Regions from separate parts of the Homo sapiens genome. Here region 1 is linked to region 2. Evidence: fine-mapped expression QTL. A gene starts in region 2. The other region holds a variant in brackets. All regions are shown on one strand. Distances are from middle to middle. Region 1 overlaps SAMM50 (SAMM50 sorting and assembly machinery component). Region 2 holds the start of PNPLA3 (patatin like domain 3, 1-acylglycerol-3-phosphate O-acyltransferase).

Evidence for each region. PIP is the estimated chance that this variant, and not a neighbour inherited with it, causes the effect.
Region 1: its variant is fine-mapped to the expression of PNPLA3 in whole blood (TOPMed, PIP 0.91).

The regions. Positions count from the first base shown.
Region 1 is chr22:43,969,687-43,974,686 of GRCh38, reverse strand. SAMM50 (SAMM50 sorting and assembly machinery component) reads right to left here. Exons shown (of 15, transcript NM_015380.5): 5 at 2,345-2,451; 6 at 1,686-1,816; 7 at 1,364-1,451. Among named protein-coding and RNA genes, the nearest start is that of SAMM50, 17 kb to the right of the region's middle. The variant A/G (reference allele first, on the strand shown) is at 2,528.
Region 2 is chr22:43,921,211-43,926,676 of GRCh38, reverse strand. It overlaps PNPLA3 (patatin like domain 3, 1-acylglycerol-3-phosphate O-acyltransferase), which reads right to left and starts at 2,872. Exons shown (of 9, transcript NM_025225.3): 1 at 2,579-2,872. The coding sequence starts at 2,765. RefSeq lists enhancers at 1,570-2,312, 2,313-3,057, 4,474-4,974.

The sequences.
Region 1 (5,000 bases), 48 kb before region 2:
CACCAGAGGGCATCCGAGGACGGTTTCAAAGCAGAAAGGTGTCTCAGGGCTGCTCCCTTCCAGACAAGAAAATTTGGAGAAAAGGAAATGAAAGTGCAAATGTGCCTGGATTCTCCTATCTCCATCTTGAACCTGGAGTCTACCTGGCCCAGCTCTGTGTGCTCTGAGTTCTCATGGCCTTGGTCTGCAAGGACCAGAGGCCTGGGGCACTAACGCACCTCAAGCACCTAAACTGCGCCACGCGCCGCATCAGGAGCTTTACCACGCCTCTCATCCAACCCTCACAACGGCCCTGGGAGACCCCGCGCTCCTGTCCTTCATTTCACAGATGAGTCATTTGCCTGAGGTCGCACAGCCCTAAGGGAGACGGGGGAGTCAAGCCCAGGTGGTCGCCTCCAGGGCTTCTGCTGGGTTCTTGGAGGGAGAGCACACTTAAAGCTTCCTGGGCCCCACTCTCTGTGAGTCGGACTTGGCAGCTCAAGGTGGAGCCCGCGAATGTGCATTTCTAACAAGCCCACAGCTGAGGTCGATGCTGCTGGTCTGAAGACCACATGTGGGGAACGACTCTTACATAGTATTCTATCTCAGGGCTCTCCGCAAGAACTAAAGCCCAGAACAAGAGGAGTCAGGAACAGTGGCGAAAGGAAGGAGAAAAAAAAAAAGCAGGTTATCATAAAGCCCCAAAAAGGCCAAATGATACGAATTCCAATGGTGGCATTTAATCACACCCTTCTAGGTGTAAACTTAGGTGTGAACCAAAAATGAAACCTTCCGGACCAGGTGCAGTGGCTCACACCTGTAATCCCAGCACTTTGGGAGGCTGAGACGGGCAGATCACTTGAGGTCGGGAGTTCGAGACCAGCCTGGCCAACATAAGGAAACCGCCATCTCTACTAAAAATAACAAAAATTAGCTGGGCACGGTGACGGAGGCTGAGGCAGGAGAATCACTTGAACCGGGGAGGCGGAGGTTGCAGTGAGCCGAGATCGTGCCATTGTACTCCAGCCTGGGCGACAAGAGCAAACCTCTGTCTCAACAACAACAAAAAAGAAACCTTCCAGTGATCTGACCAACTCTGCTGACTATGAGAAACTGTCAGTCTCCACACATATGGGGAGGGACAACCAATGGTGCCTCGGGTAGTCAGGACCAGGTTAAGGAGCTGCTAACATGGGCATCAGCCACTCTCGGGTCCCTGTAGCCTGTACTCGGCTAGAGAAGAGGCACCTGGCCAGGAGGTACCTGGTGCGGAGGGCAGAGGGCCTGTGCTTTCCACGCTGCCCTCTTGCTGCCTTTGGGAATCAGTGAAAAAGCCACCCTGTTTTCCCCCAAGCCCAGAGGGAAGGACTGAAATGCTACTCACACTGTACTCAGCTGACATTCCTCTGTCCGTCTCCCGCAGTGAGCTCCAAGGGAACTGTCCAGTAACTTTATATAAGTTTACAGAGAAACTAGGAGACAATGGGATAGAGCTTTAAAAGCTGAAACAGTGATTAGAACTTGCACACATTTAAATCAACAGACTTAACACTACGCCCGTAGGGCTCATCTTCAAGAGGAAATCTACAGCATGTGGTCACTGCAGAAGTGGCAGCTGATTCTGTCATGGTTCTTTTCACAAATAAGCCACCTATTTTAACTTTTCTATCAGGCCAGTGTACTCAATGATCTGTTGGGCTTCCTACTTTCTTTCGAAGTTTCCGGGCCGTGGTTTGAAGAAGGACAGGCCATACGAAGTTTCTTTTGTTCCATAGGAAAACTGAAAGGTCACCTTTTCTGCACGACCAAGAAGATTAGGAAGCTTGAGGCCAAGTACCTAGGAGGGGAAAAAAAAAAAATAGCAGTGGTCTACATTGAAGGAATGAGAACTTTGGATTGGATAAAGACTATGCTAGCTAAGGGACTTTCATAAAAACAGAAGGAAGATGCTAACTACAGATCTAGTCTTTCATTTGTAATCACTTTCATTCTTTAAAACATGCCGCTGCTGAGTGCTCACATCCTGCATTCAAACCTGATTAATGCAAGGGACAAGCTAACCTTGCCACCCGTGAGGCTCAAGAATGTTACAGATTTAGAGTTTAAAGGAATTTGAACAAGAGACTATTAATATGAACATTCTCCAAATCATTCCTAATTACTAACGTTAACATTGTTATCAAACAACCCAAAACATATTATCACCAATTCTACGGTGATTAAAGAGAAACCACAAATAACAACAGATTAAGGTAAATGAAATGACCGAATTTTGAAACTATCATCAGCTTTTAGAATGCAGTCATAGTGTAAAAGTTCCCAACTCTAAGTTCCAATATAAGAAAGTAAAAAGCCTGTAGCATACCATACTGCCTTCATTGTTTCCAACCATGGTGTTATAACTGCCCGTTAATCTCCTCAATTCAGTTACTTCAAAGGTAACGTCTAACCCATTTGGAAGTGCGTCATCACCTAAATAAAAAAATATTAAACAATAAGACAGCCAGGATGTTATTTTACTTTGGGTTCCCATTGCTAAAAAAGACAA[A/G]AAGCAATCTGAAGGTTCATTCTATTTTACAATCTCCTTTAGAAAATAATATAATCATGAGAAACGTTTAAGAACACTCCCACACAAAATCAAAATATTGCACACCTCTACACCAAAAAATAATGTTTCTAGTTTCTCTGGTAGAATATATCAATAAACAGGGCTGAGCACAGTGACTCAGGCCTGTAATCACAGTGCTTTGGGAGGACAAGGTGGGAGGATCACTTTCAGGCCAAGAGTTCAAGACCAGCCCCAGCAACATAGCTACAAAAATTTTAAAAATTAGCCAGATGTGGTGGCGAGCACCTATAGTCTCAACTATTCGGGAGGCTGAGGTGAGAAGATCACTTGAGCCCAGCAGTTGGAGGCTGCAGTGAGCTATGACTGTGCCACTGCATTCCAGCCCGGACGACAGAGCAAGACCCTGTCTCTAAAAAAAAAACCAAAAACCAAAAAACAAAAACAATCTACCTTTGCTACAAGGAGATAACTATAAGCAGCATTATTCACTTAAGCAAACTTAAGCAAACAATATTTGCTAAAGGAATCTGTTCTCCTATTAGAGAGGTCCTTGAAAATATTTGGGTTCTCAATTCAACCGACATGAAAATGGGGAACTCACATGACAATAGGGGTGTCAGTAACCCTCGAAGATAAGTGTGAGATTGTTTACTGTGTTACTGTGTGTAAGAGGCATGTCTGTCCTCCCCCGCACCAGGTATGATTTGGGTCTGAGCTGGAAGCAGCCACCTCGTGACCCACCATGGCCCTGGGGTGCCTTGTGCAGAGCGGGCTGGGCTCTGTAGGAATGAGTGGCCTCTCACAGGAAGGAAAGGCGACTCCTGCCTTGTACACAGGGGTGCTCAGCCCTGGCTGGACATCTAGACGCATCTGGGCAACTGTCAAAATATGCTGATGCTCAGGCACCGCTCTAGGAACTCAGGTCCAACAGTTCTAGGGTGGAGCCTCAGTACTGTCTTTTCTTTTTTTCTGAGATGGAGCCTCATTCTGTCACCCAGGCTGGAGTGCAGTCGGATGATCTCAGCTCACCACAACCTCCACCTCCCGGGTTCAAGCAATTCTCCTGCCTCAGCCTTCCGAGTAGCTGGGATGACAGGCACCCGCCGCCACACTCTGCCAATATTTTTTGTATTTTTAGTAGAGACGGGGTTTCACCATGTTGACCAGGCTGGTCTCGAACTCCTGACCTCATGATCCAGCCGCCCTGGCTTCCCAAAGTGCTGGGATTACAGGCGTGAGCCACCCCGCCTGGCACCATCTTTTCTTTCTTTTTCTTTTTTTATTTTTTATTTTACTTTATTTTTTATTTAGTGGACTTTATTTCTTAGAGCAGCTTTAGGCGCACAGAAAGATAAAGAATTGAAGCCAGCAACAGTGGGTTGCGGGTAAAAAAAAAAGATAAAGCAGAAAGTACAAAGTTTTTGTACAAACTACAAAAGTACAAAGAGTTTCCATGAACCTCTCCTTACCCCGACACACACTTACTAACACCTCGCATGTGTGGTACATTTGTCACAACTGATAAACCCATACACCAATTATTAACTCAAGTCCAGTGACTTCCCAGCCTCCCCTGCACCTAGGTGTGGCCAAGTGATTAAGTCCTGGCCAATGGGATGAGAGCAGTGCCGTGTACAACACCTAGGACAGGTGCTTAAAGGGAGGGGTAAGCCCTCTCAATCTCCTGTGCTCCTCCAATACTGGAATGAGGACACGGTGCTCAGCCATCAGAGGGACTCAGGGACCCTAGGGATGACAAAGCAACAAGACACCACGGGGGGAAACTACACCAGCCCAGGGTGACTTCAGGGAACGAAGCACCACACCAGCCCAAGGTGACCTCAGGAAACCACACTAGCCCAAGGTGACTTCAGAGAACAAGGCACCACACTAGCCCAAGGTGACCCCAGGGAACCACAGGAAACCACGCCAGCCCAAGGTGACCTCAGGGAACGCAGCACCACACCAGCCCTTGGCAGTCTCCCAGCTGTGTGGAGAGATGGAGACTTCTCTCTTGTCTAAGCCACTGTTCTTTTAGGTCTGTTAGTGTTGGCTGAAACTATACTCCAAATAATGAAAATGTCCTTAGTTTATCTAGCACCTTATTTTTTGCAAGCATTTTCCTATATTGTCTTATCTAGGCCTTCTCAAAATTACCCCCCATTCAATTCTGAAGAGTTACTCATTCACAGATTCATTCCAAATTTTATTTTTCAATGGTGTCTGCTGAATTCTGACTAAAGTGGGAACTCTACCGCGCCATGTTAGGCCCACCACGGTCTGGGCTCCTGACGGCTTTTCTTCCTTGTCTTCCAGCACTCCATTCCCCCAACCTGCACTCCAGCTCTTCCTACACTTGCGGTCCACCCAGCGAGCCACTCTCCCCTGGCGTGGGCCTGATAAGTGCTATCTCTGTCCCCAGAACATTCTTCACCCCACCTCACTACCAGCC
Region 2 (5,466 bases):
TGATATTATTTTGGATATATTGGGCTCAATGAAATTAATTCTACCTGTGTCTTTTACTTTATTCAATGTGGCTTCTAGAAAATGCACAATGACATCATGGCTTCCAGTGTATTCCTACCACACAGCACTGCTGTAGGCCTCAGCCACAGGAATGAGTCTCCCACTTCCAGAAGCCCAGGCGAGCAGGCCTCACCTCCATGCCCCACCTCCATGCCCCACATAGAGGCCAGGAACATATCAGCATTAGAGCTTTGGTGTAGATGGCCTTAATGCTATCAGGTGCAGGAGATCTGACCTCACTTACTGGCCTGGCCTCTCAGGCTGATCTGCACTCTCCTGGCATGCAAGACCACCCCTCCCAGCCCAACCCCTGGCCAGCCATAAATCTTGGGATGCACAGGGACAGGCAGGCCCCAGCCTGTCCTGACCCAAATCTGATCTTGACTCACAGCTCTCCTTCCCTGAGTGGCCAGAGGGGTGGAATTGCACGTGGCTGGCAGGTTCTGCCTGTCCCTCCTGCCAAGTTAGCCTCAGCTCAGATGCACTGAGGTGCTGTGTCCAGGATGCAGCCTCTGGGACATGCTCAGCAGCCCCCAAGTGCACAGCCCTCTGTGAGACAGGGGGTTAAAGCAGGAACCTGGAGCCCTGGAACCCAGGGAGTGGCTCCTGCCAACGCCTCCAGATCCACCTTCCAGGGACTTGGTGGTTCCTGAGCCTCCCTGTGTCCTGCCTGGGAAAGCCCCAGGCTGCACCTGTCCTCTGCCCAGTAAGGAATCCTTTCTATACCAGAGTGAGTGTACTTTAGGCTCCTGGGACCTCTGCATTTGAATTCTGTCCCAGTGTAAACATTTGTCCATGTGGGTGTCCACAGGCCACCTTGGGATACAAAAAAGCTGACTTTTATTGTTGCTAAACCCCAGGGTGTGCAAATGATCATGTGGCGGTCTAATCCTCCTGGAGGCCACATTTCGTGCCCTTTGCTCCTCTCCCCCTGGCTTAGGGGAAGGCAGACAGCCAGGACTGTCTAATCCCTAATCCCCACCTCCCAGTCAGCCCAGGGGCTGCCCACTGCTCCTACCCAATGGCAGGGCTTCCTCTGCCCGCTTCCTCACCACTGAACAGTCACTCCCTGCTGGCTCTGGCAGGCAGGGCAAAGAGTCCATTGTTAAGGAAGCCCAGATAAAAGGGGGCTAATGGGGGCATAATCTCCTGCCTGGGGACGTCTGGGTGTCAATAGCTTCACAATGCTACTTGCCCCAGCCCCTGCCTACTGGCTCACAACCCCCTCCTCGCCTCCAGGACTGTGGCACACAAATTCCCAGGAAGCATACCACACCCCAGTAGTTCCAGCTAGTGAGAAACAAACCCTCCGTCTGCACCCCCACCACACACACACAGGTACCCACATGGACAAATATTTCATTAGGACAAGATTCAAATGTACGGAATCTCATTTCCAGGAGTACTGAGCCGGAGAGGGGAGGGTGGGCCTAGGTCAGTGGAAACTAGAGAAGAGGATGGGATTGGGGGGTGTCCAGGGATGCACTCCAGCCCCCAGGAAGGGTCCCAAACACTGGAGGAGGAGGAGGAGGAGGAAACAACTTTCCTCTTTCAAGGTACCCCTCCCCACTAGACTCCAGTTAGCCTGCCCTGGAGGATGCCCAGGGTTGCCCTTCTGGGAGGCTACCCAGCCCCCAGAAGGCTGGGCTGCGACCCAGAGAGCGTAGGCAGCAGGGAGCAGTGGCTCACGCCTGTAACCCCAGCATTCTGGGAGGCCGAGGTGGGCAGATCACGAGGTCAGGAGATCGAGACCATCCTGGCTAACACGGTGAAACCCCGTCTCTACTAAAAAATACAAAAAATTAGCCGGGCTTGGTGGCTGGCGCCTGTAGTCCCAGCTACTCGGGAGGCTGAGGCAGGAGAATGGCGTGAACCTGGGAGGTGGAGCTTGCAGTGAGTTGAGATCACGCCACTGCACTCCAGCCTGGGCGACTGAGCGAAACTCCGTCTCAAAAAAAAAAAAAGAAAAAAAGAAAAGAAAAGCGCAGGCGCGGGGTGTCTTGAGTCCCTCAATCCCCAGAGGGAAGGAGCCCACCGTGGGGGACCGGCCAAAGCCCCACTCTTTGTCCGGCCCAGGGCAAATCGGCCCCTCGGCAGCTCAGCCCGTCCAGCCCCTCCCGAGAGGACACAGGGGACCCGGAGTCCGCAGGGGCCAGCACTACCCTCCGCCCCGGGTCCCGCTCCCTACTCCCCGTCGCTCCGAGACGCTCCGACTCTCAGTCCGGAGGTGAGGGTCTCCCTTCATGCACGGGCGCCTGATGGGGGTAGGGGTGGGGACGCACGAGAGTCCCAGGCTTCGGCCCGGACCGCTCGGGGTTCCAACGCCCCCTTCCCGGGCCCAGGAACAGCGCCCCCGCAGGAAGCATCTGCCTCGGAGGGGGCCCTCGGGATGCACCCCGCCGTGTCCGCGTCCGATGCCCGCTCCTCCAGGGCCCCGCGACCCCTGGGGATCCCCCGCTCCCCGGCCTAGGGGGCACCCACTCCGCACGTGGAGCCCGGGCAGCGTCCCCAGACGCACCCAGCGGGATACCGGAGAGGACGCCGACGCAGTGCAACGCCCCGGCCGAAGCGCCGAACAACATGCGCGCGTCGCGGAGGAGGTGCGGGGCGTGCTCGCTCAGGCAGCGGGTCGCCCCGACGTGGTAGAAGCCCAGGAAGCCGCAGCCCGCGAAGGACAAGCTCCAGCCGCGCTCTGCGTCGTACATGGCGGCGGCGGCGGGGCGGGGGCGCGGGTTAGGATCTGGGTCGGGATCGGGAATCGGCTCGGGTCCTGATCCGCAGCAGCTCCGCCCGGCGCCCGCAAGCGCTCTCTACCCTGCCTCAGTGTCTCGGCCAGGGCATTCCCAGCGCGACGTCAGCCCCGCCCCCCTCGGACCATGCAAATGAGCCGGCGGGAGGCCCAATGAGCGGGCAGGACGCCCTCCCGGGCGGGGCTTGGAGGGGGATGGGGGTGGGGACGACGTCTGGCGGGGGATGGGGGCGGGGACCGGGTCTGGGAGGGGGATTGGGGGCGGGGGCTGGGAGGGCGATGGCGGAGGACCTGTGCGGGGGGGTCCAGCCTGGGAGCTCCCCGCAGCGACTCGAGAGAAAGCATTTTTCCAAAACTCCAGCAGACACTGCATGTCCTGGAGAGAAACGGCTTCCTTCTGTTTTCCTTGACATCTGTTAAGTCGGGGGGTGGGAGGGGAGTCGCAGTTGGTGCCCACTTGATCCTTAACATCACTTTAACACTTTATCACGTCCCTTTTGACCCGGGGAGAGCCAGCCTAAAGCAGGCACCACCACCTGAAGAGTCTACTCTCTGCGTTGTTGCAGGCTTTCTGTATGATTGCCTTCAAGTGCTGGGGATTTTTTTCATTGAATGAAAGTAACAGGAAGTGTCCATTTCAAAGTTTCCTTTGTAAGTAAAAAATGTGAATGACGGGTGCTGGGGCTGGGGTCGGGGCCCTGTAGGAACTGGGGAGTGGGGAGTGCTTTGGGAAGCTGAGGCCTGGATGATTCCTGGTCCCTTAGTCCCTTAGTCCGTTCAGGTGCGAAAACAAAACACCTTAAAGCGGAGGGGCTTACAAACAAGAGATTTATTTCTATCTTTTTCCCCCCAGGCTGGAGTGCAATGGCACGATCTTGGCCCACTGCAGCCTCTTCCTCCCGGGTTCAAGGGATTCTCCTGCCTCAGCCTCACGAGTAGCTGGGATTACAAGCATGCGCCACCATGCCTGACTAATTTTTTGTATTTTTAGTAGAGATGGGGTTTCACCATGTTGGCCAGGCTAGTCTAGAACTCCTGACCTCAAGTCATCACCCACCTCAGCCTCCCAAAATGCTGGGATTACAGGGGTGAGCCACTTCGCCTGGCTTATTTCTCTGTCTCACAGTTCTGGAGGCTGGAAAGCCCAAGTTCAAGATACCAGCAGATTTGGTCCCTGGTGAGAGGTATGGCTCGTAGAAGGTGCCATCTTGCCACATCCTCACCTCTGGGCCTCTTTGATAAGGGCACCAATCCCATTCATAAGGGTGCCACCCTCTCATCAAATCACCTTCCAAAGGCCCCCGCCTCCAAAGATCATCACCTTAAGGTGTAGGATTTCAACAGATGACCTTTAGTGGGGACACAAACATTTGGATAGTAGCATGCCCTTAGGAGATGCCTAAGAGGCCCCTTGACCTTGACCTACCCCTGGCACTGGGTGGAGCAAGCCCACAGCAGTACATGGAGCCAAGTTAGACCTTGGTCCAGAGCTCCTCACTGGAGGACCCTGGTCTGCCGGGCCATAGCGCCCCCAGCTGGAGTGGACCAGGAAGCCCTCCCCCTTCTCCGTGAGACCTGGAGGAATGCAGAGTATGTGAGCTTTGGGGTCAGGCCTCTGCCCTCTTTGTGGCTCAGTGTCCTCAACTGCAGAATGACTGGTGGTGTTGTAAAACAGGTGACATTGCTGTCAGGATTCCAAATGTCACCTGAGAAGCACCTGGATTGGTTGGGTGGTTCATGTTCAACTGAGCTTCCCCATTCTGCTGCAGTCCTTGCTTTTGCCTTGCCTGGAGGGGTAGGGGAGCTGGGAGCAGGGCTGCCTCCTTTCTCTGGGCAGGAATCCCAGGGCATGGGAGCTTCAGGCCTTAGTGAATACCTGGGCTGACTGCCTCATCACATAGACACTTTGTAGATGGAGGCCCAGAGCAAGGCAGGGTCAGGTCCTAAGTCCCGGGGAAGGTCAGGAGAGCTGAGAAGCAGACAGGGGGTCCCATCTATTCCTGACGTGTTGGCTTTGCTGGAGAGGGGCATTACCTACAGTCCTGCCCTAACTGCCCTCCACCCCCACCTCACGCTCAGGGCTGCGGCGGAACTGAGGCTTCTGGAGGGGACAGCTGGGGTCAGAACCTCTAGCCTCCTGTACCCATCCATCCCTCCTGCATTGCATGACCAGTCTTAGGACTAATGACAGGAGGGCCAGGCTCTGGCACAGGAATTTGAGGCTGTGACCGAAGGCCCGAGATGAGTCACCCTGCCACCAGCCACAGGCATTCATATTCTCTTCCTGTCCACCGGCATTCATTCTTGGCCAGCCACACTGGACATCTGTCATCCCCAGTGTGACCCAGATGTGGGCAGGACAGGAGCAGGGCTGAGGACTCACCCCCTCTTCGTCACTGCATGTAGACAGCAGCTGGGGGCCCTCCCCACTTTCCAGAGACAAAGAGAGGACCCAGCTGGGCAAGGGTTTCATGGTCCAGCTCTCTCAGCCCCCCATCCAGCCTCCAGTGGGACAGGCACATGATATCATGGTTGAGACTGCAAGCTTTGGCATCAGACAGCCAGTGCACAAGACTCGCAAGCATCATTTCATCTCTCAGAGCTTCACTTTTTATATCTGTACCATGGGGGAGAAAACAGTTGTGTGAGGGGCATTG